Linked DNA regions of Homo sapiens: all the other regions are linked to region 3. Evidence: fine-mapped expression QTL. A gene starts in region 3. Each other region holds a variant in brackets. All regions are shown on one strand. Distances are from middle to middle. Region 1 overlaps CRYBG1 (crystallin beta-gamma domain containing 1). Region 2 overlaps CRYBG1 (crystallin beta-gamma domain containing 1). Region 3 holds the start of CRYBG1 (crystallin beta-gamma domain containing 1). Region 4 holds the start of LOC101927405 (a long non-coding RNA gene). Region 5 overlaps QRSL1 (glutaminyl-tRNA amidotransferase subunit QRSL1). Region 6 overlaps CRYBG1 (crystallin beta-gamma domain containing 1).

The links. PIP is the estimated chance that this variant, and not a neighbour inherited with it, causes the effect.
Region 1: its variant is the best candidate, but not a certain one, in a credible set for the expression of CRYBG1 in whole blood (INTERVAL, PIP 0.50).
Region 2: its variant is the best candidate, but not a certain one, in a credible set for the expression of CRYBG1 in whole blood (GTEx, PIP 0.77).
Region 4: its variant is the best candidate, but not a certain one, in a credible set for the expression of CRYBG1 in unexposed skin (GTEx, PIP 0.71).
Region 5: its variant is the best candidate, but not a certain one, in a credible set for the expression of CRYBG1 in prefrontal cortex (BrainSeq, PIP 0.55).
Region 6: its variant is the best candidate, but not a certain one, in a credible set for the expression of CRYBG1 in testis (GTEx, PIP 0.64).

The regions. Positions count from the first base shown.
Region 1 is chr6:106,547,104-106,552,170 of GRCh38, reverse strand. It overlaps CRYBG1 (crystallin beta-gamma domain containing 1), which reads right to left. Exons shown (of 22, transcript NM_001371242.2): 14 at 193-319. Among named protein-coding and RNA genes, the nearest start is that of RTN4IP1, 80 kb to the left of the region's middle. The variant C/T (reference allele first, on the strand shown) is at 2,202.
Region 2 is chr6:106,530,023-106,535,089 of GRCh38, reverse strand. It overlaps CRYBG1 (crystallin beta-gamma domain containing 1), which reads right to left. Exons shown (of 22, transcript NM_001371242.2): 8 at 4,775-4,914. Among named protein-coding and RNA genes, the nearest start is that of RTN4IP1, 97 kb to the left of the region's middle. The variant T/C (reference allele first, on the strand shown) is at 2,597.
Region 3 is chr6:106,358,352-106,363,418 of GRCh38, reverse strand. It overlaps CRYBG1 (crystallin beta-gamma domain containing 1), which reads right to left and starts at 2,702. Exons shown (of 22, transcript NM_001371242.2): 1 at 2,338-2,702. The coding sequence starts at 2,510. RefSeq lists silencers at 2,592-2,671, 2,692-2,901 and an enhancer at 1,830-2,696.
Region 4 is chr6:106,501,336-106,506,402 of GRCh38, reverse strand. The region is part of intron 2 of CRYBG1 (crystallin beta-gamma domain containing 1); the gene reads right to left. It overlaps LOC101927405 (a long non-coding RNA gene), which reads left to right and starts at 4,182. Exons shown (of 3, transcript XR_245566.4): 1 at 4,182-4,488. The variant A/C (reference allele first, on the strand shown) is at 2,688.
Region 5 is chr6:106,656,336-106,661,402 of GRCh38, reverse strand. All of the region lies in intron 9 of QRSL1 (glutaminyl-tRNA amidotransferase subunit QRSL1), which reads right to left. Among named protein-coding and RNA genes, the nearest start is that of QRSL1, 29 kb to the right of the region's middle. The variant G/TG (reference allele first, on the strand shown) is at 1,938.
Region 6 is chr6:106,523,011-106,528,077 of GRCh38, reverse strand. CRYBG1 (crystallin beta-gamma domain containing 1) reads right to left here. Exons shown (of 22, transcript NM_001371242.2): 5 at 2,898-2,945; 6 at 2,692-2,810; 7 at 608-773. Among named protein-coding and RNA genes, the nearest start is that of RTN4IP1, 100 kb to the left of the region's middle. The variant A/G (reference allele first, on the strand shown) is at 2,640.

The DNA of each region.
Region 1 (5,067 bases), 190 kb before region 3:
AAGGAAGGAGAAAAGGAAATGAATAGAACAAACACATTGAAAAAGTTTTTTTCTTCTAGATTATTAGCAATTACTGCTAAAAATAAACTCAGAATATTTTCCATAGCAATTACTATTACATGAACCAGGAACACACATTAAGGAAATCCAGAATTCAGTTAAATATTCTCATACAAAAATATAACTCCTTACCAAACATATAGGTTGAACAGAAGAGATCTTACAATTTTTGCCTCCCCAGTCCTCAAAACTGGTATAAAATCCTTTATCCAGTATATACTGTTCTCCTGTGAAGTCAGGATTTTCATAGGCTACCCATCTAAGAAACAAAAGCAATCACTTGTTGGAGTTCATATTTTACATATAAAACGATCACATATTTGGATATCTATGTATCATACAGAAACTTTCATTTGTTTTGCCAATTGAAATTTTAATTTTTCTGATTCTCCATTAACCTTTAGAAGCAGATGGGTTTGTCTATAGGACAAATCAGAATGGTAAGCCAGCAGAGAAGAGGGAACATTTATACACTGCTGGTGGGAATGTAAATTAGTTTAGCTGCTGTGGAAAGCAGTTTGAAGATTTCTCAAAGAACTAAAGATAGAACTAGTATTCAACCCAGCAATCCCATTACTGGGATATACCCAGGGGAAAACGAATTATTCTACCAAAAAGATACTTGCACGTGTCTTGTTTACTGCCACACTATTCACAATATCAAGATGTGGAATCAACCTAGGTGTTCATTGATCAATGGTGGATTGGATAGAGAAAATGTGGTACATATAAACCATGGAATACTATACAGCCATAAAAAAGAATGAAATCAAGTCCTTTGCAGCAACTTGGATGCAACTGGAGGTCACTATCCTAAGCGAATTAACACAAACAGAAAATCAAATACCAAATATTTATGAGCAAGAACATATACTTATGAGCATGTTCTTGCCCATAAGTGGGAGCTAAACATTGGTCATGCATGGACATAAAGAAGAAAAAAAAATAGGCCCTGGGGACTACAAAAGGGGCCAGGAGGGAGGGGGGTTTGAAAAACTACCTGTTGCATGCTATGCTCAGGTTGACGGGTTCAACCGTACCCCAAACTTCAGGAAATCATGCAATATACCCATGTAACAAACCTGCACATGTACCCCCTGAATCTAAAATAAGAGTTGAAAAAAAACTTAATGCAAAAGAAATGGTAAGCGTAAGGGTATCTTGACATGAACTTTTTGGCGTTCTCGCTTATCAAATACTATTTCTTGAGAAAGCTACAAAGGCAATACTTCTCTGTGCTTTTTTTTTTCTAATTGTATTCTAAGGAAACAAAACAAACAGGACTTTCAAGAAGAACCTAGTTCTTTTAATAAGCAATCAATAAGTCCTTTCATTCTCAACCTTAAAATATTTTTGCAGAAAGATCTTAGGAAGCTGTGTCTATTACACAACAAACCACACTGAAAAAGAAGTTAACAGAAGAAATGCTTTTAAAAATGCAGAACAGAACTAAAATATTGTTTCCAACAGTGTTTCCAACATCACATAAATATGTAAAAATTAAATAAACAAAATTGAGCAAACTCATAGAAATACTAAAAATAAATCTCTTTTGGAATGTTTTTTTCTCTTTTAAGTGATCTACACCCAGAGGAAAATCAACAAAACCAATTTAATGATGCTATTTCCTATGCAAAGATAAAGTCTTTGAAAGGAAAAGGTTTTTCAGTTCTGTTATATTAAAGAGATACTTAATACCATTATATTGAAGACATTAAGTATCTTTTCAATTAATTCATCATTCTCATGATCCTCTCAAAGCTTAAAGGAATAATATCTATGTATGTATTATGTAGGGTGATCAGAACTTTGCAAAATGTTTCCACATCTGTTATCACATTTAATCTCCTAGGGAGGTATTGGTGTTCCCATTTTACAGATGGGAAAAACCTAAGACACAGTAAGTTAATTCATTTACCAGGTGCCAGGAACTAGACTGGCACTAGATATACAAAGATGAAAAAGACAAAATCTCTGTCCTCCAAAGCCCACAGATGGGTAAGCAGCATCACATGGAAGTATTTGTTGGTATTTGTTTTGAATGGGAAATGACTTGTCCAGGGTGACACAATCGACTATTGGCCAGAACGTGACTGAACCTACCTGTCCTGAGGCCCACCAGGCTCTCCTTGCTTTGTGAC[C/T]CAACCTGCCATGTGCCCTGGAAAGTTCCCTTTCATTTACTGTTCTAGTAAACCATGCCTAAAACAGTCCACACACTTTATAATTAGAGCAGATTATGATTTTACTATCCAAAGGGCTGATTTAAACAAAAACTCAAGTACAGTAATTACTAGAATATGAACAGCCATCAAGGAAAAAAAGAACACTGCCAAAATCTCCAGTGAGAAGTAGCTAATAACAGCCAACATCTGTGCACTCACTCCCAGCCATCCAAATGGAGAAGCTGCTATATGCACCACTCAGTCTTTCAGGAAATACAGCCCCCTACCACCCCCCATCCCCCGATTTCAGAACCTCACTAGCAATTTTTAAAACCTGTTCTTTTTTATTTTTATTTATTTTTTATTTTTTTTAGTAGAGTCAGGATTTTACCATGTTGGCCAGGCTGGTCTCAAACTCCTGACTTCAAGTGATCCACCCACCTCAGCCTCCTAAAGTGCTAGGATTACAGGCGTGAGCACTGTTCCCGGCCTAAAAACCTATCCTTTATCACTGAGAGGTGAGGAGATAGGAGACCTGGCTCCACCTGTGGCCATGACATTAACTTTCAGATAACTTTGAAGAACTCACTTAACCTTTGTGAAAGTTTGTATTTTCAAGTGTAAGTAGGAGAGTGGGCCAAGGTCCCCGGGCTGACCAGGTGATGCTGTACAGCACACGGGTACCCGCATGTGCTGCCTCTGCCCACAGGGCCTCAGGCTTTACCCCCAGCATGAAAGGAAGCAACAGTAAAGCCAGAGCAGGGAGCACTGCTATGTGGGAGGAGTGTCTGCACATCAAGAAAATCTACATGACTGGATTAAGAAAATGTGGCACATATACACCATGGAATACTATGCAGCCATAAAAAATGATGAGTTCATGTCCTTTGTAGGGACATGGATGAAACTGGAAACCATCATTCTCAGCAAACGATCGCAAGGACAAAAAACCAAACACCGCATGTTCTCACTCATAGGTGGGAATTGAACAATGAGAACACATGGACACAGGAAGGGGAACATCACACACCGGGGACTGTTGTGGGGTGGGGGGAGGGGGGAGGGATAGCATTAGGAGATATACCTAATGCTAGATGACGAGTTAATGGGTGCAGCACACCAACATGGCACATGTATACATATGTAACTAACCTGCACGTTGTGCACATGTACCCTAAAACTTAAAGTATAATAATAATAAAATTTAAAAAAAAAGAAAATCTACGTTACAAACACTAGGACTTTAAAAAAACAACGAACAATTAAAGAAGTAGAGCCACATCAAAAAAAGGGTTCTCACCAGGGCTCCGAGTCTGTAACAAGTAGAGAGATAAGAGGGTTAAAGGCCTTTCTGTTTGACTTCAAGGTTTGGAGGGAAAAAAGACAGTGAGGTGGGAGGCTGAATGCCAAGGAGAGAGGACAGCCCTGGAAGCAGCTTTAGCCAGTACTCTGTTCTTTTTACTAACAAGTATGGGTACTGTATTTTCCTATGAAACTAAACTACTTGTAAGTAAATACCCAACACCCAGCTAAGCCTATCTCTAATTCACTGAAGCTGAAGCTGGAAAACAATTTATTAAGATGTTACTTGAACTGACAGTAGTGTTGTTTTCCCTCCAAGATACCTGATGAATCACCCATGAATGGGGGGAGTGGGGGAGGGGAGAAGCCGCAAAACCCAGATCTGAGATTCTCTGCTCTATGATCCGAGAGTCTACTTACAACTTACACTTGGGGCTCTTAAGAAAATCCCTCCCTGTCCTTGTCCAGATGTATTCTGTACACATGAATCAACACTCCTCTGTTTAAAGACTGGTGGGGAGACGGGGGAAAGGCATGTACACAAGTACTAGCAGGTCCCAGCCTGGTGGAATAATTGCTCAGAAGATAAGGGCAGCAGGGTAAACCTGCCCTTCCGTGGAAGGCCAAAGGAAAAAGAATTTAAAACAACAACACTTTTCGTTTTCATCTGAATACCAGAAATATTTCATTTTGCTCCTAGTTTTAAAAAACTAGCCCAGTTTCCACTATTTGAGCAAGAATATAGCATAGAACTAGAAACTGATAAGCAGGGAGTTTCTTTCGACATTTCCAGTAAGAATCAAATGCAGTTCCTAAAAACCTCAGTTGCTGGTTTCATGGGCATCCTTCCTGAAGGCTGTTCTCTGTTTCAGGACTAATGATGAGTTTACTGCCCAGGGGATGTATTACCCATGTGATGGTGAGCCTCCTGGGAGATACTTTCATGGAACAAGAACTTCAGAAGAGTTTTTTTCTGACAATGCATGCCATAATAAGAAATAAAGAACCAAGCTAAAATACTTAATTGCCAATAAAAATAAAGCCATTAAAATACAATAATTTTCCTTTGAAACTATTTAAAGTGAATAGGTAGTCCTCCTCCATCATCTTGGCTCATCTCAGCCTTCCTATCCTATCCCACAGGCCTAACTCCAATGCCACCTCCTCCACAAAGTCTTCCTTCCCTGTGTCCAGACTGGAAATTAATCTCTCTCTGCTGTGGATTCCCAGAGCATTTAATCTGTACCTCTTTTGTAGCAATAATTATGTTTTACATAAATACCGTAACTTCTTTGAGGACATAATACAATGCTTTGCACATAACAGACCGCAATAAATACTTGTCAAATGACAAATCGAACAAAATATGAGGAAGCACCTGGCCCTGGTAAATACAAAAGCCCTTCCATATGCAAAGAATTTCAAAGGAAGTGGTGTGTGTGTGTGTGTGTGTGTGTGTCCACGTATGTGTACGTAGCTCCCTTCAACTTCCCCCTTCTACCAAAACTTAACTGCTACAGCCAGAAAAAAGAAGCTTAAGCCA
Region 2 (5,067 bases), 170 kb before region 3:
TATTATTCTGTATATGTCAAATATTACACAGTACAAATGATCAAATAATGTTTGTCAATTAAAAAAGAAGTCCCTTGACTTTAGAACACCTGCATTCTAGTACACATTCTGCTAACAGCTAACCCTAGTCTGGAGAAAGTGACCAAAGCTTGTCTTCCTCAGTCAAATGATGGTGTTGGGCCAGATCATCTTTATACTCCCTTTGAAGTTCTAAACTTCTTTGCTTTTGTTCGTCATAAATATACCACCCCCCACTTCCACCCCTACACACACCCCGCCCCCAAAAAACCCAATATGCTTTCACCTCTGGGAGGATGGGTGCCAGGATTAGCCAGCTGCTTAAAAGAAAGATTTAAAAACAAATTACTCTCAACAGAATCTGAAAGGCAAGTTTAGTTAGAAATCACTCATTTCCTCAAACAAGAATTTGACCAGACAAGTAACACCCTTATTTTGTGTATGAGTAGAAGAGCTTAATCTAGAGTGAATGGGCCCTGGAATAAATCACCTAATGGATTCTTAAGGAGTTCCCTCTACAGCAAAGACTTCTTATCCCAGTTCAGGGGAACCAGTGCATCAACAGAAGCAAAATGAGCTTCAGTACTTACTATCAGTGACATCTTCTCAACCCCTTGAGACTTTCCTTTGAGATCTATAAAAGCACTAATGACCTGGTGTCTAAGCTCACCAACCAAGTTCAACGAGCCCAAACTTTGAATTAACATCTGAGGCAGTGTTCAACAGAAATGAACAGCCAGAAAAGAAGATGCTCACCATGACACAAACCTGTCATAAATTGTAAGCTGTGACAGGCTGGTAACTACCACCCAGGAGGCAAAGCTAAACTTACTGCAAAGGTAAGAAATATCATTTAAGGTAGATTAATGTGCTTCAACATAGCCAAGCCTGAGTCATGGCACCTTCCAGACACTGAGATTAAAATATGATAACAGATGCCTTTTTCATTCTTTTCTAAGGAAAGTGGTGTTTCTCAACCTGACACCAATTCTTTAAAAAAAAGTGTATAGACTTCTTTCATGTAAAAAAATTAAAGGCAGCAAGAGATGAAGGCATTTTCTTTTGCTTAGATTCCCACTTTTCTTCCCAGTCTCTAAATACAAAAGTGCCTTCTCTTCCCTTAACTACACCCACTCCCCTTTGGGACTGTGTCCTGTGCCTGGTTTAAATACATTCTCTTTGCCAGTGACTCCTAAATTTATGCCTCCAGCCTCTCCCCTGAACTCCAGCCTCACATAGTCACCTTCTTGCCCACTTACTTGAATTTGCAGTTGGCATCTCAGCCTTAACCTGTCCAAAACTGAGCTCCTGAATCTCACTCTCTCTCCTATCCTGCTCCTCCAAGTCTTTTTCGTCTCAATAAATGTTGGGGTTCCAAACCCTGGGCATGTCTTGGCCCCTCATACCCCACACACAATCTGTCAGAAATGCTGTTAGTTCTACCTTCAAAATGCATCCAAGATCTGACCATTTCCCACCACCACCATCGCACGTCTAAGCCACCATCTCTTCTTGGCTGTATGATTGCAAGTGCATCCTACGTGGTTTCTTGGCTTCCACCTTTGCCTCTTTACAGACTATTTTCTATACGAACAGACAGGCTGATCCTTCTATTAATAACACAAGTTAGATAAAAATTCGCCAATGATTCTCCATGCCACGTAGAGTAAATCTAAATCCTCCTCCCCAAGGCGTGAAAGGCCAGATGTGACCTGAGCCCTGTCTTATCCCTATCCTCCTACTTCACTCAGCTTCAGCCGCCTTGGCCTCTTAGCTATTGCCCAAGCATGCCCAGAAGGGCTTTTGCAAATGGTGTGCTTCCTCTCTGGGACAGGCTCCCTGCCCCTCTTCCCTCAGCTAGCTCCAGGGCAGACTCCCTCACTTCCTGCCGGTCCCTCCTTAAAATGTCACCAGAGTCCTTTACTAGCTACCCTATCTAAAATAGCAACATGCCTGCCCCTCTGTAATTTATGTTTCTTGTAGCCTTTGCCATCTGACACATTATATATGTATTTGTGTTGTTTATTCCTGCTAGACTGACAGCTCCAGGAGAATGGGGACATCATTTTATGTCTTCACTGCTGTATTCCCAGTGACTAGAAAAGCACCTGGCACATGGTAGATGCTTGATTAACAGATTTACTGAATATATTTAATACATCTCATAGACACTCTTTTGGGTTTATATTTGTTAAAGTCCCAATTTCTTGTCATATTTAGACAGGGTATGCAGAGGAAATAAAAGCCTTTCCTAATTTCTACTTCTAAACTAACCACCTTTAAAAATTTCAGAGCCTTTCAAGGACTACGGGGTACCAAATGATATAACTCAAAATGTACACAAAAAACAGTACATTTATTTAAAGAAGATATACAAATGGCCAAGAGGTATATGAAAAAATGTTCAACATCACTCAAGATCAGGGAAATGCAAATCAAAACCACAATGAGATACCACCTCACTCCAGTTAGAAAGGCTATTATCAAAAAGACACAATATAACAAGTATTGGTGAGGATGTGGAGCAAAGGGAACTCTTCCACACTATTGGTGGGAATATAAATTAGCACAGCCATTA[T/C]GGAAAACAGTATAGAGGCTCCTCAAAAAATTAAAAATAGAACTCCTGTGTGATCTTGCAATCTCACTACTGAGTATATATCCAAAGGAAATGAAATCAAGTATGTCAAAGGATACCCGCACTTGCATGTTTCTTGCAGTGCTATTTGTAATAGCCAAGATACAGAATCAGCCTGAGTGTCCATCAACAGATGAATGAATAAAGAAAATGTGGTAAAAATATATAATAGAATAAGTTCTGGTGTTCTATTCCACAGTAGGGTAACTATGATTAACAATAATATATTTTATATTTCAAAATAGCTAGAAGAGAGGATTCTGAATGATCTTACCACAAAGAAATAATACGTGTTTGAGGTGATGGATTTGCTAACTTCCCTGATTTGATCATTATGCAATGTATACAGGTATCAAAACCTCACATTGTACCCCATAAATATGTGCAATTATTATGTGTCAATTAAAAATAATTTAAAAAGCAGTAAAATGTATACTATCCTTGGAAAATAACTTTATACATCAAGAGGAGATATTTAAATTAATATTGTTCTCTACACCCCAAATTCTGCCCTAGTAACTACACCTTTGTATATTGACGAACCATCACTATAGTCCTCCCTTGTTATTTTCTCACTCTTCTGGGAGAGGAAGGTTGTTTTCTGAGACGGGCTGCCATAGGGAAAGAATACCATCGGGCTTCTGGGGTGCTGGTAATGTTCCAGTTCTTGGCTCAAGTGGTGTCTACTTGGGTGCTCACTTTATTTGTTTAAGTGTACATTTACCTTCTGTGAACTTTTTTCTAGGTGTCTTATATTTCAAAATGTTAAAAGTAAATAAATAAATGAACAAACTGTCGTAAAGGAGGTACCTAACTCATACTTTCCTTTCCCTACAAAGCTCTGGATAAATTCTTGTCCATCCTCTACCTGAGTACTCCCTGCGATGAGAAACTCTTTACCTAACAAGGCAGCCCACTTCCATTTTAACTGTATTAACCATCAGAAAGTTCTTCCCTGGGTCAAGTCAAAATCCATCTCTCTAATTTCTACTGGTTTTTCCTGGGACCTCCTATGGAATAACAGAGAGCAAGTCTAATATCTCTTCTATATGACCACCTTCCAACTATTCAAGGATAGCTGCTACCAATTCTCAATAGCCACACTTCCTGTTAAGTTGCCTAGAAGTTTTTAGTTTCTCATTTCTGAGGATCAAAAATCAGATTCTATGATCTGTAATTTATCCTATTCCTACCTTTTACACAAGCAAATTATTTTTCTAAGATATGAACAATGGCAAACCAAGGCTTTTAGTAATAAATAGAATGCAAAAAGCATGATTAAGGAGTGCCTTATTGTTCACTGCAGAGATACTCCATACCACTTTAGGGACAGGCTGTAAACTTTTTTGACTGTATAAACCATTAGTAAAAACATTTGAGCATTCTCTGAATATATGAATATTTATAAATTATATACATTACCACTGAACTAATACATTATGCATATTAGAAAACATATACAAAAATAAAATCTTAAGAGGTGGAGACTTTAATCAAATAGAAAGAAGCTTTAGTGTTTTTTCCTGCATCTCAGTGAATGTCTTTCACATGCCTTGGGGCTTTGTGCTTCACTTTGGAGACCACATTCTTCAGTATTGCAGTCTATACTTTCTATCCTCATTTCTCCCCTATCTGAGGTATTCCCATTTCCTTCAAAATATTCTTGCTGTTTCCTGTGATTTGTGAAACCAACCTCCTAGGGGCTTTGAACCAGCATTGTGTGAAAATATTCAAGGAAGTACCATGTGTGTTGGCTTCCATCCCCCCCCAGAAATATCAGGGGCATGTGCTTTGAATTACCTCCTCTGAATCACCATGAAAATATAATCTGCTACTCAGCTTTGAATAAATCAGATTTCTCTGTGACAAGGAAAGCCTTACATTAAAAAATTCAATCCCCCCCCATTTCCTATAATAAATCGATACTGTTTTTAAGACAGATGAATCATAACATAGGTGCAAAAGAATCAGAATTTTACGTGCCTTATAAAAATATACCTTACAGTTAATAATTACTTAACAGGATGACAAATTAGAGTCAGAGTATCTTAAGTCCTCTTTTTCCAGTACTACACTCACAAAAAAACTTCATTAAAATTTGTTTGAAAAAAAAATACTTACGTGCCCCAATGTACTTTCATGGAACAAGTCTTCTGCATTACACCAAATCCCTGCATTTCTTCAGTATCATCAAAGTAGGAACTTAGGATTCCTAACCCTTCTGGTTCAGTAAATAAGTCAATGTGACTAACTCTGTAATCCTGAAAAAATATAGATGCATAGATAGTAAGAATTGCACCATGTATTTCACTCTCTAGTAAGCTCATTCTTCTTCTTCTTACAACTAATCAAAATGAGCTTTAAATTTACAAACACATTTCACAGAGCACCTGCCATTTTAGCCCTTTCCTGTT
Region 3 (5,067 bases):
AAAACATCCCAAAGACAGACTAGTACGTTTAGTTTTTCAGAACATTTATTAATACGAAGTTCATCACGGTTCTGAAGGAAAAAATGAAGTGTTTCAAGACTGCACTAAAATATAAAAAAACTCAAGGAGAGAAGCAAATCTCCTATTTTAATTTTTTTTTTTTTTTTTTTTTTTTGAGACGGAGTTTCGCTCTGTCGCCCAGGCTGGAGTGCAGTGGCGCGATCTCGACTCACTGCAAGCTCCGCCTCCCGGGTTCACGCCATTCTCCTGCCTCAGCCTCCCGTGTAGCTGGGACTACAGGCGCGCGCCACCATGCCCGGCTAATTTTTGTATTTTTAGTAGAGACGGGGTTTCACCGTGTTAGCCAGGATGGTCTCGATCTCCTGACCTCGTGATCCGCCCGTCTCGGCCTCCCAAAGTGCTGGGATTACAGGCGTGAGCCACCGCGCCCGGCCTCCTATTTTAAATTTTATACTAAAATGTATTTACATTTGAATAAATTACCTATAGCTGTGTATTATTATGTTTTGATAGACAGTAAATGATAAGACTAGATCTTAAAAGGAAAACCACGATGGAAATGTTTAAAATATTTACTGAGGTAATAGAAAAGAACTTCAATGTTGGGTACATTAAATACTGTATTTTGTTAGAAAGTATAATCTATAATTAGGCACAGTAAACGTTTGAATAGGTAATATATTTCTACTACAACTGATTACCAATGTGGATGATAAAATATGAGAGAAAAATAAAATGACTTCTTTCTTAGGTTTCCTACCCTTACCCACTCACACCTAGACCTCCCCGCTGCAACCACTTGCGCTTCTCAGGAAGTGCCACGCTCTTCTAAGTGCTGGTGATGTGCACAGTGCAGCCCCTGCCTGGAACTCGCTGCTCCTCCCTGTTTCTGCCTAAGCCACTTCACCTATCCTCCTCCAGGAAGCCTCCCTGATCCCCTCCTGTGTGCTGGCATCTATCATTGCATTTTTTGGTATCCACAAGAGACTAACAATTCTTTGATGACACAATTATTCCTGTCTCTCATTGTTTTTTATATCGCAGTACATGGCACTTAGCTAAGGTACTCAATACAATAAGTGAATGAAAATAGATCGTAAAATTGACTTTTTTTACAAATAAAAGGAGAGGCCGGGCGCGGTGGCTCATGCCTGTAATCCCAGCACTTTGGGAGGCCGAGGCGGGCGGATCATGAGGTCAGGAGATCGAGACCATCCTGTCTAACACGGTGAAACCCCGTTTCTACTAAAAATACAAAAAATTAGCCGGGCGTGGTGGCGGGCGCCTGTGGTCCCAGCTACTCGGGGGCTGAGGCAGGAGAATGGCGTGAACCCGGGAGGTGGAGCTTGCAGTGAGCCGGGATTGGGCCAGTGCACTCCAGCCTGGGTGACAGAGCAAGACTCCGTCTCAGAAAAAAAAAAAAAAAAAGAAAGAAAGAAATAAAAGGAAAACCATGTCTAAAATGCAAATTTTGCACAATTTTATTCTGGCCCTCATAGGGTGTATTTTAAAAACACATTTGGAAGGATTTACTGGACATTGTCAATTGTCCATCACTATAAATATTTCACACCTCTGAGCCATGTAAATACGCTGTTACTTCAAATTGATTATTATTCAACGAATGCATAAACTCTGATGCTATAGTTGAATAATTATACATATAGAATAAAACCACTTCAAAACCATGATAAAAATCAAAAAGCACAATGGTAACTACAGTTTTGATAACTAGGTGCTCTCTAGCTCTGCCACTGGCTCCAATGGGGAGAAGCCATTTATCCTTTGGTCTCAGTTCCTCCACCCATGAAATGGGGGTAACCATTCCTGCCACTTCCTCCTCCCTTCGTATGTTGCGAGGAGAATGGGGGTATAACATCTGTAAGAGCACAGATCTTACAGATATTCACAATAAAGAGCTTTACAATAAAGACACTAGCTCAAAAGCAGTGCCTAACCCCAAAGCAGAGTTCCCGCCATCATTTAGGACGGTAACAACCCTCACTCCCCGCCGCTCTGGTTAGCAGGCTGATGCGGGAGGCTCCTGCATGAAAACTTTGCAGTCATACTAAAGGCCACATGCGTGGGCACAAGTTCCTCTCGCCGGTGCTTGGTCTGAACCAAAAGCCGCGAGGAACCTCGTCAACCCCAGCGGCTACGATCGCTCCCCTCCGGACCCGGGTACCCTCCTGCGGACTGAAACAGACCCCGGGGCTTTCCCCTCCTCCAAGTGGGGTCAGGAGTCCAAGGGCTAGCGCAGCAGGAGAAGGAGGAGGAGGAGGAGGTGGGACTGGAGGGCTCGGGCGAGGAGCTCACCTGGCCTCTCCGGCAGGCGCCGGGAGCGGGTGCGGAACGAACACCCCACAGTCAGGCGGCGCCGGCTGCTGCTTCTTTTTGGAGCGCCAGAGGTGGAAGGTGGTGTGCTTCTTAGGGGGCCTGCACGGGCTGGGCTCCCCGGGGTCGCCCTGGGCTGGCGGGGACAGCGGCATCGTCTTGTCCTCCTCCCGCTCCGACTGCCGGGACGCGGTCCTCTCTGCCGCCCGGGCCCTATGGAAGAACACACCTGAGCGCCAGCTCGCCCGCCTTTCTCAGCGCGCCGTGGGACCCCGCCCCCTCGTCGCGGATGCGGGGGGACGGCCGCGGGTTGCAGAACCAGCACCCAGCGCAGCGCGAGCAGCACTGCAGCCCGAGCTGTTGGGGCGGAGGCGGGGACCCAGCCGCGGAAGAGCGCCCCCGCGCGGCGCGGGCGGCAAGGGGCGCTAGCCCAGGTGAGGCGCTCGCGCCGGGAGCCCCAGGTGAGGCAGACACGCCCCGGCTCCCCACCCCGGGGGCGCGCGGCGGCCGTGGGACAGCGACACCTACTGGATGCTCTGGGCACCGCGACTCCCGACACTGCATCCCAGGCTCTAAGATGGGACCCAGAGCCGGGTCGGGCTTCCACAGCGCCTGGGGTGCAGCGGCCATTGTCGCCTGCGGAGTTGTTGGCCGCTCTTGGCCTGTGACAGGCTGGCAGGGTGAGTCGCTGCTTAGCCACGAGCCCCGCCTGGAGAAGGATGGGAGAGGCACATCCCGGGGCTGGGCCGCCCAGCAATTAGGACTCTTCCACTCTGATCTCTGGGTGGCTTGGGCAATGTCATGTGCTGGTGGCTTCTGTTCCTGTTCGTGAACACGGGTGGCAACTCCGCCAACTCGTCTCCTCTCTCAAGAGTCTGAATAATTAATTTGTACTCACATCTCATAAAACACAAAAGGATTAAAAAAATTAAAAACGCCAGAAGGGAATTAGGCATATTCCCCAATTCCCCAAGAGCTTAATAGATCCCTCGCAGTAAATTAAATGCCAGTCCCACAAGGTATTTACATCATCTGCATTACTGTTGATGACTTTCTTGTCTTAACTTCACAGTCGTGGCTAAATAGCAAAGGAAATTAATACTTAAGCAAAGTAAGTAAACGAACAATTATTTTGGGCATCATTAGAGCAAAGAAAGTGCAAGAACTAAGCACTACTTAAAAATTCAATGCAGTACAAGATCCTCTTTCACGGTAATGTCTTTATTTTCCTCTTTGAAAACACAACTCATTCATTCGTTTATTCACTCATTCAAGGAACATTCATTTTTATTTGTTTTTATTTACATTTTTATCAAGATGTAATTTATAGACAGTAAAATGCACAAATCATAAGGGTAAAACTCAAATTTTTACATATTTATGTGGTTGGGGTGTGAAAAGTTTTTTAATGGAGAGTTGACATTGTCCTAGAAAATTCTTCCGTATGTGGCTTTTAAATGTATGATTATAGGCCAGGAGCGGTGGCTCACGCCTGTAATCCCAGCACTTTGGGAAGCCGAGGCAGGCAGATCACTTGAAGTCAGGAGTTTGAGACCAGCCTGGCCAACATGGTGAAACCCCTTCTCTACTAAAAATACAAAAAAAAAATTAGCTGGGCGTGGTGGTGGAGGTGCGCCTGTAATCCCAGGTACTCGGGAGGCCGAGACATGAGAATCGCTTGAACCCAGGAGGCAGAGGTTGCAGTGAGCCGAGATGGCGCCACTGCACTCCAGCCTGAGCAACAGGATGAGACTATGTCTCAAATAATAATAATAGGTAAATATATATGATTATAAAAATATAGAATACTTTCAAAACTTTAAAAATCTCCCTACTGTCCTCTTCCAGTACATTACCCCTCCCACCTGTAAAAGTTAACCATTATTTCATCCTCTTTTGCTGGAGATTAATTTGACCTTTTCTGGAATTTCATTTTAGTGGAAAATCACAATATGTACTCTGTTTCTGGTTTGCTTTGCTCAATATTAGTCGGTGAAAATCATCTATATTGTTGCTTATATTGTAGCAGTTTTTTGTCTTGTTTTGTTTGAGACAGGGTCTCACTCTGTCACTCAGGTAGGAGTACACTGTTACCATCACCTCTCACTGCACTCACTGCAGCCTTGACCACCTGAGCACAAGTGATCGTCCCACCTCAGCCTCCTGAGCAGCCAGGACTACAGGCACACACCACAGGACCGGGCTTTTTTTTTTTTTTTGGAGGGGGTACATTTGTAGAGACTGGGTTTTTCCATGTTGCCTAGGCTGGTCTCGAACTCCTGAGCTCAAGTGACTTGTCCGCCTCAGCCTCCCACCAAAGTGTTGAGATTACAGGGGTGAGCCCCTGCACCTGACCCATAGCAGTTTTTCATTTAAAAAAATTATTGTATACTGTTCCATGATATGAATATGCCACAATTCATTTATCCATTATTGTGGATGGACATTAGGTTGTTTCCAGTTTGGGGCTATTATGAATAAAATTGATATGAACCTTCTGAGATGTACACATTCATTTCTGTTGGATACTTATACCCGGAAGTTCAATCGTTGGGTAATACAATATGCATATGTTCAGCTTTAGTGAATTCTGCCAAAAAAGTTTCCCATTTATATTCTTTCTAGCATGTTTGAAATTTCCAGTTTTTCAATATCTTCATCAACACTTGATATTAACAATCCTTTTCATTGTGGCCATTCTGATGGGGATGT
Region 4 (5,067 bases), 140 kb before region 3:
ATAAAAAATAAATAAATAAGTTTTCCTATGTTTCCCACCTTTTCATTCCCCAGTGAATGTAAGCTCCTTGAGAACAGGAAAAATGTTCTGTTGCCTTTCCAACAGCTAGCATGGGGGACTGACAGCTAGAGGTGGACATAAAGTATTTGCTGCTACTAAAGAATTAGTAACATCCCTCCTGCCTTTCAAAAAAGGAGTTGTCAATGCTCTTGGAGACAACTAGAAACATTGTTCTAAACAAATCAGAATGAAAATCTTATCTGCCTAAAACTTAGTGTGGTCAAGACTTGGCAGCTTTATTCTGCCAGAGTGAGGATTCCACGTGTTGATGGAGCTACCGGTGCACAGGTTTACTGCAGCCTCTCAGCCCAAATCTGACTCAGGAAAGTGGAACAAAATCTTGTTACATGTACTCACCTGTGCATCCTTCTAAAATGTGGTCATCAATGTACAAAAGTAACTTTTTTTTTTAAACACGTGTGATTCCCTAAGAGCTCTCACTTTGTTGATTTCTGAAAGATACCTTAGCTTTTCAATTCAGCCACATGGGAATGAGTCAACTGGATATTACTGTAAATGATAGGATTGGCCATGTTACTTGTTCACAACATATGCATATGTGTGTTTGTGCTAGTGAGCAACTTTTTTTCCTGAGCAGTTTTTTTGTAAAAAAAAAAAAATAGCATGAGTTGTGTGGCTTAAAAATATAGGAATTTGAGCTACTTTACACTTCAACTTTAAAAGTTAAAATAGGGGTTAGAAAATTCTGTTCAATAGAAGCAAGAAAGACTTTAGACTCGTGACAGCTAACTAAAGAACGAAGATGGGGAATGGGGAAGGGGGAGAAAAAGGAGAAACACACACAGAAAAACAAGGCCAGGCATGGTGGTTCACGCCTGTAATCCCAGCACTTTGGGGAGCTGAGGCCAGCGGATCACTTAAGGTCAGGAGTTCAAGACCAGACTGGCCAAGATGGTGAAACTTGTCCTACTAAGAAATACAAAAATTGGGCCGGGTGCGGTGGCTCATGCCTGTAATTCCAGCACTTTGGGAAGCCAAGGTGGGCAGATCCTGAGGTCAAGAGATCGAGACCATCCTGGCTAACATGATGAAACCCCGTCTCTACTAAAAATACAAAAAATTAGCCGGGTGTGGTGGCACGTGCCTGTAGTCCCAGCTACTTGGGAGGCTGAGGCAAGAGAATTGCTTGAACCCGGGAGGCGGAGGTTGCAGTAAGCTGAGATGGTGCCACTGCACTCCAGTCTGGCAGAGCAAGACTCTGTCTCAAAAAAAAAAAAAAAAGTTAGCCAGGTGAGGTGGGGCATGCCTGTTGTCCTGTGCCGGAGGATCACTTGAACCCAGGAGGTAGAGGTTGCAGTAGCCAAGATTGCACCACTGCACTCCAGTCCATCTTAAAGAAAGACTTTTATGAGACATGATTCTTTTTTTTTTTTAATAACTTCCAGGATATTCATTCTGAAGACTTTTAGAATTAAAGTTAAAATTGTATTTTCCCATGATAAGTGTATGGCAGAATATCATCTCAGTATCAGAAACACCAGGCAGATGAAGTTAAGTTTAAGGGAGGATCCACATACAGATCCCTGATACCACAGACATTGATTTGGAATAGGCATTAAAAATAAATTAACTATCCTCCCCACCTTTCCGTTTGTGTTTTCCTTTCTGATATTGATTGGGATAATATATGTGGCCTGTTCTATACACACACACACATATACACACACACAAACACACACACGCACAGCAAAAAGAATAAAGAAATGTTCACATAAATGAACTCTGATCTATTAAGCACAGAAGCTTTTCATTTTAACTTTTAAAATATTTTCTATTATATATGATTCAGTTACCTAAGAGTATACTAGATATAATTTAGCTACTTCTTTATGATTCTGGAGACAGAACTATGAACCTCTGTTACTACATTTGTGCTACAATAGTGATTTCTTCCAGGGCTGTTAGAAGGAGTGAAGACTACGGCTTACACTAAATGACCCACAGACTGTAACACTGTCTGGTAGTAAGCAGATCTCTTATGAAAAGGTATATGAAACTGTGACATTTGGCCATTTTTGATCTACAGTCCAATTTCATATGATATAACCAATAATCCTTGAGGTTAGGGCTTCAGAACCTTCTTCTCCGATGTCACTGCTCCCAGTCTCCCGGGGTGGAATGTCTGCTTGCCCCATGCTGCTTCTAATATTTGTCACCACTTCTAGTGCCCACCTCATCTCTGATGCTATTTTTCTTTTTTTAAAAAAATCTTTTTTCTGTCATTTCAACATAATGTAACACATACCTCTCTACTTACACCTCAATGGTTGTGGTTTTTTTTTTTTTTTTTTTCTAATGCTGTCACTTCAGGCCAAACAATAATATCATCCTGTTGGGTACAATCAAAGGTATACTATTGGGTGAAAGAATAGTGACAGACTTTTTAACTTCCAGATTAACCTGTGTCCTGAAAAAGAGGTGTCACTGAATACAAAAGCCATCAATTATAAAAGTTAATTTATAATTTATAATTATAATTTCATTCTCCCAAAAAGCTTCTTTTAAAAAGCAGACTCCCAGTTTCGGGTTGGTATTGTCTTTAAGTCATTTATACTTTGACAGAGACAAAGTGAAACCTAATTGTTTCAAGCCATCGACACATGATC[A/C]ATCAGAAAGGAAGATAAAAGATAAGATCATGGAATGTCTGAATTGTAGGATCATTTACTCATTCATTCCACTGATAATTATTGAGTGTCTACGTTGTGCCAGAATTTTCTCCGCACCTTAAAGAGGCAACCTGTGGCCTGTAGAATCGAATTATTTTTTCTAAGACATAAGTCAGGCTTTCTAAAAGGTAGCTCAGTATTTTTTCTTGTTAGAAATTATAATGTATCATTAGAAAAATAAGACTTTACTAGAATGATTAATGTGTCACTTTTATGAAGGCATGGCTTACATGCTTTCTCCTAGGCCATGCAGTACAGCAATGGATGTGATAGCATAAACAGCCAATGAGCCCTCTCTTGTGATGGAGCTCTGTCTTTAGAATCCAGGTAATTGTAGATAGAGTGTGCTGGATCTTTCCGTAGGCTCACCCTCCCTCAGCCTTGTCTGCGCCCCAGGCTCCCAGTTATGATGGAAGGTAGAAACTGACTTTCTTGTCCTTAGGATTTGGTTAGGTTCAGCCAGTGGGAGGCCCTGATTTCCCCCCTAATCTCTCCATCTCTTAGTTGGGCTCTGGGTTGGGTGTGGCTGGGTGTGACCAGGGCTTCTGCCAGGCAGCCCACTTCCGCCGCTGTTCTCTCTCCCCATATTCCCGAGCCGCTTTCCCCTCTTGCTCCTTCAGGCCTAAGATGGGAAAGGACCTCACCAGGTGCCAGATGGGAAGGCTTCATTAGCTATTGCTTGAGGTAGAATGAAGTTTTGTGGGGCATGAGGCATATGTTATTTTGAGAGTTTTCTTTAAGACAAAGAACACAAAATTCTGGCTTATAGATTTTAAGGAGAGGGCCTTGGAAGAGGCCATGTGAAAGAAGAACCCTGAAGCCTAAGGTTTTTTTTAGCCCTTCTTGGCTTCCTTAAAACCTCGCCCACACTTTGTAAATAGTCCTTCACTACTTTCCTTAATTACACAACTTGAGTGTGCTATATGTTTCCTGTGCTGGGATCCTGACTAATTCTACTGTGTGCCTAATTATGACTAACAAGTACCCCAGAAGGTTTCTCTACCTGTACTTTGAATAGTCTCCCCAACATTCTCTTTTTCTCACAAAGCTATCCGGCTGAATTAATTTGCTTTACAGTTGAGATGTATTATCCTAATTCGGCGATTTTTTTTCTTATGCATAATGTGTAATTAAAAGGAGATAGAGTAGTTTGAAATTTATAGCAAAAGTATTTCTTATTCTACCTCCTGGATTATATGCATATCCTGATTAACATAATCAAATTACTGACAAGTTAGTTCCTAACTAAAATTTAGCCAAACTGGAAAATGGAAATGTGTTCCTTGTGAAGTCATCAAATCAGTTCCTTTTTATTAACTTGTAACCCAGAAAGTACATTCCTTATGCAATTTAAAAAGAATGACTTGTGCAATAATTCATGTCAAAGATCAAGAATGGTTACTTTAAAGCACTTAAAAGCCACTGGTGAGTCTCAGAATCTAAGTACTAAAGAACCAAGGACTAAACTTCAGTTGGGTCATCCATGTATAAATGATATGATGCAGGAGATGGTGATTAAGTTGGGGGAAAGAGGGTGAAGCGGCCCTTGGAGACAACTAACACAGCCTGCCTGCCCCGACCAGGCACAGCTACAGCCAAGTCAGAGGCCCTGGGGCTGACTGGGACCCAGAAGAGAAATGAGAGCTGGAGAAGAGGAACAGACAAGCCTCTCCAACACAGCACGGACTCTAGCTAGGCTGGCTCTGAGACTTCTAGTGACCTTGAGACCTCATAACTTCAGGTCAGTTTAGCCATGTTTGTAAGTGTGGATTTAATAGTGGATTTATTTCTAGAAAATGGAACAATCTTTATCTTTCCAATTAATATACACTGCCCAGAAATGTCTTAGTTTCCTGTAGTTTCTAGTGAGAATTGTTGACTTTCTACCAACACTTTGCAAATTAAGAAGTAGATTTCACACTTCTATGATCAGAACTCAGGAATACTACTAAATGGGATCAAATCACTTATTCTCTCAAAAGTTGCACATCTATCATACAGGGTACTGAGAAATTCATGTGAAATGATACATGTGAACATCTTTTGAAAAGCACAAAGTAGCCTATGACAGTGATGGCTGGCTTTATTAACAGTGCGATATTTTGCTGATGTTTTGCTCAAGTTAAAATTATAGAAACTAAGTAAGTAACACAATGAATTTATGGTTCTCAACTGGTGAGAAGGAGATGAAAATAACAGCTTTATCAGATGTAGTTTCTAACAGAGCTAATTTGTCTGCAGAACTTGGCATATCATTGCTCATGAGCACTCATCTTTAATGTGTCATGGCTAGAATAAAGAAAACAATATAAGCCTACTC
Region 5 (5,067 bases), 300 kb before region 3:
GGTGGCTCATGTTGTAATCTCAGCACTTTGGGAGGCCGAGGCGTCGGATCACAAGGTCAGGAGTTCGAGACCAGCTTGACCAACATGGTGAAATCCTGACTCTACTAAAAATACAAAAAAATTTAGCCGGGCATGGTGGTGGGCGCCTGTAGTCCCAGCTACTGGGGAGGCTGAGGCAGGAGGAGAATCTCTTGAACCCAGGAGGTGGAGGATGCAGTGAGCCAAGATCGCGCCACTGCACTCCAGCCTGGCGACAGAGCAAGACTCCGTCTCAAAAAAAAACAAAACAAAACAAAACAAATACTTGTTTTCTATTAAATTTCTTCCTACTTTAAATATGGCTCAGAAGAAGAACTGCTTCCATCCAAGATAGAGTAATGGAGATGGGATTTACCCTGTGCTATGGTTTGAATGCTTGTCCCCTCCAAAACTCATGCTGAAATTTAACTGCCACTGAAACAGTATTAAGAGATGGGGCCTTTAAGAGGTGATTGGGCCATAACAACTCCACTCTTGAGTGGGATTGGTGCCATTCTAAGAGGGAAAGTTCAGCCCCCCATGTGCTTTCCCTTTCTCTCCCTCTTTTTCTCCCCACCCTTGCTTTCTGCCATGTGTGGACATAGCAAGAAGGCCCTCACCAGGTGCTGGCTTCTCAATGTTGGACCTCCCACCCAGCCTCCAGAACTGTGAGCCAGTAAATCTCCGTTCATTATAAATCACCCAGTCTCAGGCATTCTGTTATAGCAGCAAAAATGAACTAAGACTGCTTCTCAGAATAGGGGATTAAAAAAAAAAAAAGAACTAAGACACTCTGCCTTCTTAAACAACTAGAAAACTGGACAAAATATATGAAATGACCATTTTCAGGCATTAGGCAACAGACATTCAGGAGAAAAAGTTGTGAGAGAAGAGAAACAAATGAAGTAAGCCAGGCCAGGTGTGGTCCCTCATGCCTGTGGGGTGGCTGGGGGTAGGATTCCTTGAGCCCAGGAGCTTGAGACCAGCCTGGGCAACACAGGGAGATCCTGTCTCTACAAAAAAAACTACAGTAGTCCTAGCTTCACGGGGGGGGTGGGGAGTGTTGAGGGTTGCTGAGAAGAGCTTGAGCCTGGGAGGTCGAGGCTGCCAGTGAGCCATGGTCATGCCAATGCACTCCGGCTTGGGTGACCAAGTGAGGCCCTGTCTCCAAAAAAAGAAAAGAAAAGAAAATGAGATATGCCCTTTGATTTCCCCAGCTTAATGCCTAGGGGCAGTTTTCAGGCCTCATTCCAGAGAGGAAGCTAAACAGTATGTGGGGTGGGGGGTAAGTTAAAGGGACAGAGATCTGAAGTTCAAGGAGGCAAAGGCAGCTAGAATTTGCAAAGCAGGGTGCTGAATAGAAGGGAGTGGCACAAAGAGAGAGCTCAACAGATCTGCAGGGAGATTCCTTGAGTCTCTGGCTGAGTACTGATCTATGAGTGCATGAGAAGAAATTCCCAAGGCTGGGGAAACAATCCCCAAAGAGCAGTGGACTGAACAATTCCTAGAGCTCAAACAGGGACGGAAATAAGTTTGTGTTTCGAACAGCCAAAGCGAAAGACTCAAATATATGCAGCATCAAAGCATCACCTCAAAGTAAAGTAAAATTAGCCCTGGAATAAAGGCTGCTTTGGATTTATCTTAACAAAGCTTTAAAAGAAGCCTTGAAAAGAGCCAACAAATTCCAAGCACCTTTATTGCATCCTGGGAAAAAGCCCAACACTGTTTAAAGGAATATAACAAAAGTCTAGCAAATGACAATGTAAAATTCACAATATACAGACATGAAAAGCAGCAAAAAATATGACCCATAACCAGAGAGGGAAAAAGCATTAATACACACAGATGCAAAAATGATGGAATACTGAGTAGATAAGAACATTAAAACAGTTACTATAAATATGTTTTTTTTTTTTTTT[G/TG]GAGACAGAGTCTCACTCCGTCACCCAGGCTGGGGTGCAGTGGCACAATCTTGGGTTACTGCAACCTCTGCCTCCCAGGTTCAAGTGATTCTTGTACCTTGGCCTCCCGAGTAGCTGGAATTACAGGCATACGCCTTCCCACCCAGCTAATTTTTGTATTTTTAGTAGAGACAGGGTCTTGTCATGTTGGCCAGGCTGGTCTCGAACTCCTGACCTCAAGTTATCCACCCGCCTTGGCCTCCCAAAGTGCTGGGATTACAGGTGTGAGCCACCGCACGCAGCCTAAATATGTTCTATATGTTCAAGAAGGTAGAAGAAAATATAAAATAATGAAGAAATTGAAGGGATAAGAAGACCTACATGGAACTTCTAGAGAAAAAAATATAATGTATAAAAAATGTACTGGAAAGAATCAACATAACAGAAAAAAAGATCAGTGATTCTGAAAACAGTAATGGAAACTAGCCAAAAGGAAGCAGAGAAGGAAAAAAGACTGGGGGAAAAAAAAAGAATGTAGTGTCTGTGAGCTGTGGGACAACATCAGGCAGATTAATATACATGTGAAGAGAGTCCCAGACAGATGGAGGACAGAAAAAATATTTGAGGAAATAATAGCCAAAATGTTCCAAATTTGATTAAAACTATAACCCAACAGATCAAAGCTGCTTAACAAACCCCTATGCAGAAGAAGAAATATGCAGAGAACCACACCAAGGCACATCACAGTCAAATTCCTGAAAACCAATGATAAAAAGAAAATCTTAAAATCAGAGGAAAAAAAGATACATCATATACAGAGGAATGACCATAAGAATGACAACAGACTTCTCAGAAACTATGTAAGCCAGAAGACAATGGACAAAACCTTTAAAGTACAGAAAGAAGAAGCAACCTATACTTTTTTTTTTTAAAGAGATGGGCTCTCGCTCTGTCGCTCAGGCTTAAGTGCAGCGGTGCGATTATAGCTCAGTGCAGGCTCTCACTCCTGGGCTCAAGCAATCCTCCCACCTCAGCCTCCTGAGTAGCTGTAACTACAGGAGTGTACCCTGTGCCCAGCTTAACCTACATTTTTAAACCCAGAGAAAATATCTTTCAAAATTAAAAGCAAAATAAAGAGTTCTACATATAAACCAAAGCTGAAAGAATTCACTGCCAACAGGACTACAAGAAATATTAAAGAAAGTTCTTCAAGTAAAAACAAAATTATACCAGATGGAAATTTATATCTCTAGAGCAGAGAGAAAAGCACCAGAAATACTAAATATGTAGGTAAATATAAATGACACTATTTTTCTCATTTTAGATCTTTTTAAGAGAAAAATTACTATTTAAAGAAAAAAAAGCAGAAGAAAAGGTTAAAAGAAAAAAGAACAGATGGGACAAACAGAAGATAAATAGCAAAAGGTAGATATAAATGTGTTACATAAGTAAATATTTATGTCAATTAAAAATAAACTCTTCCTGGCTGGGCATGGTGGCTCACGCCTGTAATCCCAGCACTTTGGGAGGCTGAGGTGGGCGGATCACGAGGTCAGGAGTTTGAGACCAGCCTGGCCAATATGGTGAAACCCCATCTCTACTAAAAATACAAAAATTAGCTGTGTGTGGTGGCGTGTGCCTGTAGTCCCAGCTACTCAGGATGCTGAGGCAGAAGAATTGCTTGAACCCAGGAGGCAGGGTTGCAGTGAGCTGAGATCGTGCCATTGCACTCCAGCCTGGGTGACAGAGTGAGACTCTGTCTCAAAAATAAATAAATAAACTCTTCCTGGCACATAAGTTGACTTTTTAAAATAAAAAAAGTATTCCGAATCCCATTTTTCCTATCACTTTTGTCTACCCAAGTTGACCCAACTTGGCACTGACTCAGGAGCTAGGGATACCAGCAGTAATTTTAACTTCCTTTTATCAGAACCCCCAAATGGTGATCATGAGGAATGCTTTCTGACTTCTCTCCTTCAATTTCTTTTTATGCTGTTACATTGACCTATATAATTCATCAACTTGTGCCCTGAGATAAACAATATGGTTCTAATCAGTAATATTTGGCAAAAGTAATATCTTTAGCTTAATAAATGTTTTCACTTAGAAAATTATTTCCTTTTGTTTTCCTACTCCAAAGTCATTACAAGCATCTGGTCAATATGGTAACAGTCTTTTAATCTGGAACATAACCAAATAGTATTCTTTTTTTTTTTTTGAGATGGAGTTTCACTCTGTTGCCCAGGCTAGAGTGCAGTGGCACGATCTTGGCTCACTGCAACCTCTGCCTCCCGGGTTCAAGTGATTCTCCTGCCTCAGTCTCTCGAGTTGCTGGGATTGCAGGTGCCCACCACCACGCCCAGCTAATTTTTGTATTTTTAGTAGAGACAGGCTTTCATCATGTTGGCCAGCTGGTCTCGAACTCCTAACCTCAGGTGATCTGCCCACCTCGGCCTTCCAAAGTGCTAGGATTACAGGCATGAGCCACTGGGCCCGGCCTCAAATAGTATTCTTAGAAAAAGTAATCCTGTGGCCTGGCATGGTGGCTCATGCCTGTAACACCTGCACTTTGGAGGTTGAGATGGGTGGATTGCTCGAACCCAGGAGTTGGAGATCAGCCTGGGCAACATGGCAGGATCCCGTCTCTACAGAAAATACAAAAATTAGCTGGGCATGGTGGTGCAAGCTTGTAGTTCCAGCTACTAGGGAGGCTGAGGTGGGAGGATCACTTAAGCTCAAGAGGTCAAGGCTGCGGTGAGCTGCGATCACTTCACTGCACTACAGCCTGGGTGACAGAGTGAGACCCTGTCTCAAAAATAAAAAGTAATTCTAACTATCGGCCCTGAGAGGATACGCAGATGAATAAAATGCCTTCTGCCCTTGAGGGCATGGAGAAAAACTCCAAGAAGCTCTTCATTACAATAACCAATCTTGCTTTTTCACACTTCTCATGTCCTCTTAGACACACTTGGTGGTATAGAAGATGAAGCCTGTTCACAAGATCGTGAATAAACTCATAATGAAGACAATTGAAGGAGGAGTCATAGTCATTCTGAATTCTTTTTTAGAGTAAAGACATACATAATACAAGGAAAAACTAAGTTGATTCAATACATTTTTCAAGAGACAATACAACTCTCTGCTTAAGGCT
Region 6 (5,067 bases), 160 kb before region 3:
AATTTTCTACTTAGAAGACATCATTAATTGCATTTTTAAGGTAAAGAATCATCAAATCCTAAGAGCCACAAAGAAAGACTCTGACAACACTTTCCTCATCAAATAACAAGAAACCAAGAAATTTTACCTCACCCATAAAGTGGCCTCAAATAGAGTAAATAATATTTTGTTAAACCCACATGAAATCCCAGAGTTAATCAACCAAATTATTTTTGGATTATTTATTTTTCCAAAATAGAATTCCTATAAACCACTCAAAGTAATCAGAACTCATACAGCAAACAAAAACACTAAATAAATGAAAAACCTGTTCATAGAGGCAGAACTCATTTAAACCAAGTTACCAGGTAAAATATATTTGGAAGATGGGAATAGAAGGACAGGCATAAAAGATCTACCTAAAGGGTTTATTGTGAAAAATTATCTAACCAATTATGTTTCTTTTTAAATTATTTAAAGTGTACAAATACTTAAAATACAGAAAATATATCCATAAGGCACCAAATATGTTTCCCAATCACATATTTCGTAAAATGATCATTTCCCTTAAAGTAAGAATCCATAAATATTAGCTGAATAAATAAAATCCATATTTACCACAACCTACCTGAACCACATGTCTGATGGAACCAATCACCACTGGCTTATCAGACTCTGCTTCTTCGTGCCTTTCCAAAATGTCTTCTATACCCCAGAGACCAGAGAGTTCCAATTCTCCTTCTTCTAAGGGGATGGAGTGCCCTTCAAAATTTGGTTGCTCATACAAAATCCAACTAACAATAAAACACAGCAAAACCATTAGTCAGTCTTCGTGAGAGAGGTTTTGATTACTCAAATAACCTGGCTAATTGCCATTTTATATATATATATAGAATATTAGCAGCCAATTATCTAGCAATTAAAATAGCTTAAACTCTCCCTAACACTAATATTTTACTGGGTATAATTAAGCCTCTGATAACTCATGAACTATATCAGGATCTTAGAGAACTTTGGAGTTACCTATATGAATGCTATAGAGCTACTAATGTTCTAAGTAATTGCCAAGTGGTAGAGACTTATGATAATATGTCAGATAAATGGATGTTTACTGTACTAGGTTTTTTTTTTTTTGTCTCTTTTTTTTTTTTTTTTTTGGATACAGAGTCTTGCTCTGTTGCCCAGGCTAGAGTGCAGTGGTGCGATCTCGGCTCACTGCAACCTCCGCCTCCCTGGTTCAAGCAATTCTCCTGCCTCAGCTGCCCTAGTAGCTGGGATTACAGGAATGTGCCACCAAGCCTGGCTGATTTTTGTATTTTTAGTAGAGACTGAGTTTCCCCATGTTGGCCTGCTGATCTCGAACTCCTGGCCTCAAGTGATCTGCCCACCTCGGCCTCCCAACGTGCTGGAATTACAGGCATGAGCCACCATGTCTGGCCTTTTGTCTCCTTATATGTGTAGAAAACATTTCTCTTAGAGAGACTTTAACTTACATATTACAGTCATATCAATGAATATGTTGGCACAAAAGACTATAGATATGGTAATGGAAAGCATTTTAATAATATTCTTCCCAACAACAGCCAAACACTAAAGAAAAACCTCATGTCAATATATGGCAGTGTAAATGCTTATGCTTTCAAGAAAAAGAAGCCGACAAAAGTTGCAAAAGAAAGGAAAAAGTACTGTTCCATAAAAACAAAATTTGTGTAAAAAATTGCCACTATTATATATTGTATATTAGTGGCCAATTCTCTAGCAATTAAAATAGCATTTGTCTTCAAATTTAAGAATAAAAGCAAATCTTGTTTTTCTCATGACTATGTTGGATATATAGGAAAAAATATTAAAACACCTAAAAATCTAATAGGAAAGCTGCTGCATATTTAATCAAATGGAGACCAAAAGAAAAGCTTATGAATTTGTAAATCCATAAACATTCAGAGGTCTACCCTCTTTACTTCAAACAAGTTTACAAGTAGGCACCAAAAGATAACTATTATGCCAGATCAGCGATTTCTTTTTTTAAGCTGCCTTTCTCTACCCAACTTCCTGTGTATCTCCAAGAGGCAATGAAGCTGATAAAATGATTTCAGAAACTGTCAAAATATTTATTTTTTTCACCAGTTTCTTTACTTAGCCAAAACAATCTTTTGTGGAAATATTGGAAAGTAAATTAAATTTTAAGTTAGTGCTGCATTGAACTGTCATTAAAAAGTTAGAAAAATGCCTTTCTTTATAGATTATTTTTGTTTTACCTTATAGATTTTTTTTCCTTATTGTTTCTTTACTTTGCCTTTTCCTACGTGTTCTCAAGTTTCCTTATAGGTTTTTGAAAAGTCGTATCTGGCCTATCAACATAACTAGTGCAATTCTTATCAACCTCATTTAAAGGTCATCAACCAAGAGTATGTTATGGGCCCTGATATATGACTAGTCCAAAACAATATTATGGGGAAGCATGGGAAAAAGAAGCTTGTTCTACTGTATTGTTCTGATTTTTCTCCCATAAACATATATCACTGCTATAATCAGAAACATGATTTAAAATGACATTGTTAAGATATGAATCCCTTATCTTACCACGAGTAGTATTTCCTGTGCTTTTCATTGCTAAAGCCATAATTTTAAACTAGTAGTGAGGACTAAAAAGTTAATTA[A/G]GTATGTAAAACTCAAACACTTGACATCAGGAACTTAAAGTGCCATTCTTACCATCCTCTAACAACTTTTATGAGTATCACTGGAGAGAGGCTCCAAGAACTGCAATCCTGAATGTCACTGAAAACTTCAATGCACTTCTCAGAGACGTCGGGTTCACTATATATCACTACCTGCAAGAAAACGAAAGTGGTAGCACACTTTGTTGTACTCTGTCAGACCAAAATAGAATCAAGACTAGAAACAGAAAATAATCTTACCTTTCCAGGTCGGGGATTGAGTTTATTTTGGACACTTCCTCTAAGTGTCTGCAATCAGATGAACAAAAACACAACAAATAATTACAACTTCACATAACGATCCTCTTTTTCCACCCACGATCCTGTAGGTAGATCACACTTTTCCCACATTGTATCGATTTTGAAACCTCCACTCTAATGGATGCTAAAGTTGTATTAAAACTCTTTGAGTTTATGCTTTTAAATTGAGGTTTTTTCACCTCTAACTGAATTTGCCATTTCAATTTCTCCTAATTTAAATGTCTAGGCTATTTCCACCAATGCTAGAAAATTCAGGGCACATATGTTTCATGTCAGTTCACAGAATAGGAACTCAGCTAAGAGATTCTAATTCAAATAATATCAGTATCATCTCAAATAAAGATAAATTAGAATATATTAATCACTTACCTAGAAAGAGCTGAATCAATTTTGTGTTCATATACATACCCTATCTGAATCCATATAAATATTGTTTTCTCATAGTAAATCTACAATCATATAACAACCACTAGTCTAAATAGAAGTGTTTATGGTATATATGGTATATTTCATAATGTACATTGCACATAGTATATTTAATCCCCCTTTTTTTTCTTTTGAGATGGAGTCTGGCTCTGTCACCAGGCTGGAGTGCAGTGGCATCATCTTGGCTCACTGCAACCTCCGCCTGGGTTCAAGTGATTCTCCTGCCTCAGCCTCCCGAGTAGCTGGGACTACAGGCATGTGCCACCAGGCCCAGCTAATTTTTGTATTTTTCTTTTAGTAGAGATGGGGTTTCACCATGTTGGCTAGGATGGTCTCGATCTCTTGACCTCGTGATCCGCCTGCCTCAGCCTCCCAAAGTGCTGGGATTACAGGTGAGAGCCACCGTGCCCGGCCTAATCCCGCTTTTTTGATAGACAAAATACATTTCAATATGGCTCCAAAACTAATCATTTTCAAGACCATCTGACAAGACCAGTAAAACCAGAAATGCATAAGATAATAAAATAGTAATTATACATGTAAAAATATTACAAAACGTGAACTACTTTCAGTGCTGACCAGGATGCCTATTTTAGGAACTGCCTTTGCTCTGACTGCTCTTGCATCACACCAGAGTGTGATATGCCCAGAAGACCACAAAAGGCTGGGGCGCAGTGCCTCACACCTGTAATCCCAGCACTTTGGGAGGCTGAGGTGGGCAGATCACCTGAGGTCAGGAGTTCGAGACCAGCCTGGCCAACATGGCAAAACCCCGTCTCTACTAAAAATACATAAATTAGCTGGGCGTGGTGGCACTCACTTATAATCCCAGCTACTTGGGAGGCTGAGACATGAAAATCGCTTGAACCTGGAAGGCAGAGAGGTTGCAGTGAGCTGAGATCATGCCACTGCACTCCAGCTTGGGTGACAGAGCGAGATTCTGACTCTAAAAAAAAAAAAAAAGGCCATAAGGGCCCCCCTAGAGCCTTATCAGAAGCCAGATGGTATATACCTATTTATGTATATATACACATTAGAAGTAGATAAACTGAAGAAAAAGCCTAAAATTTAAAACAAAATTCAGGTAAAACCTTCATGATTGAATATACAATCAATAAAAGCCCAGGACCTAAAGAAAGACCATATTTTTTAATCATAAAAAGGCCTAGAAAAAGTATAAAGATTTTATTTTTCCTTTTTATGTCATTTGACTTGATTTTCATAGGGAAACTGTATATTCTGTTATCAACTTTGTCAGACTGTAGTTAAATAAGGAAAGCGATCTAAGAACAATTAAAAAGAACAAAGTAGTAATGAATGGGAAGTGGACCAGTGGAAATTTTGTGCTTGAGAGAAATAGTTAATATTTCTATTATATAACTATTAATAGAAATAGTTAGAATTTTATGATTTCTGAGTACCATAGGCTGATTCAGTCTTATTTGTTTATAGCAGTGGTTCTCAAAATGTGGTTCAGAGGCCACTGCGGGGGTCTCCAAGATACTTTCAGGTAGTCCATGGGGTCAAAACTATTTTCATAATAAGAAGAGGTCACCTGCCTTTTTCATCTCTGTCTCAAATGTCCAGCGGAGTACAAGGCTCCATGATGTGTGATGACATCGTTGCTCTGAGCACTGGTGCAGTGTGCACTTCTACTTTCTGGTGTTTTACAATTTTCTCAGCA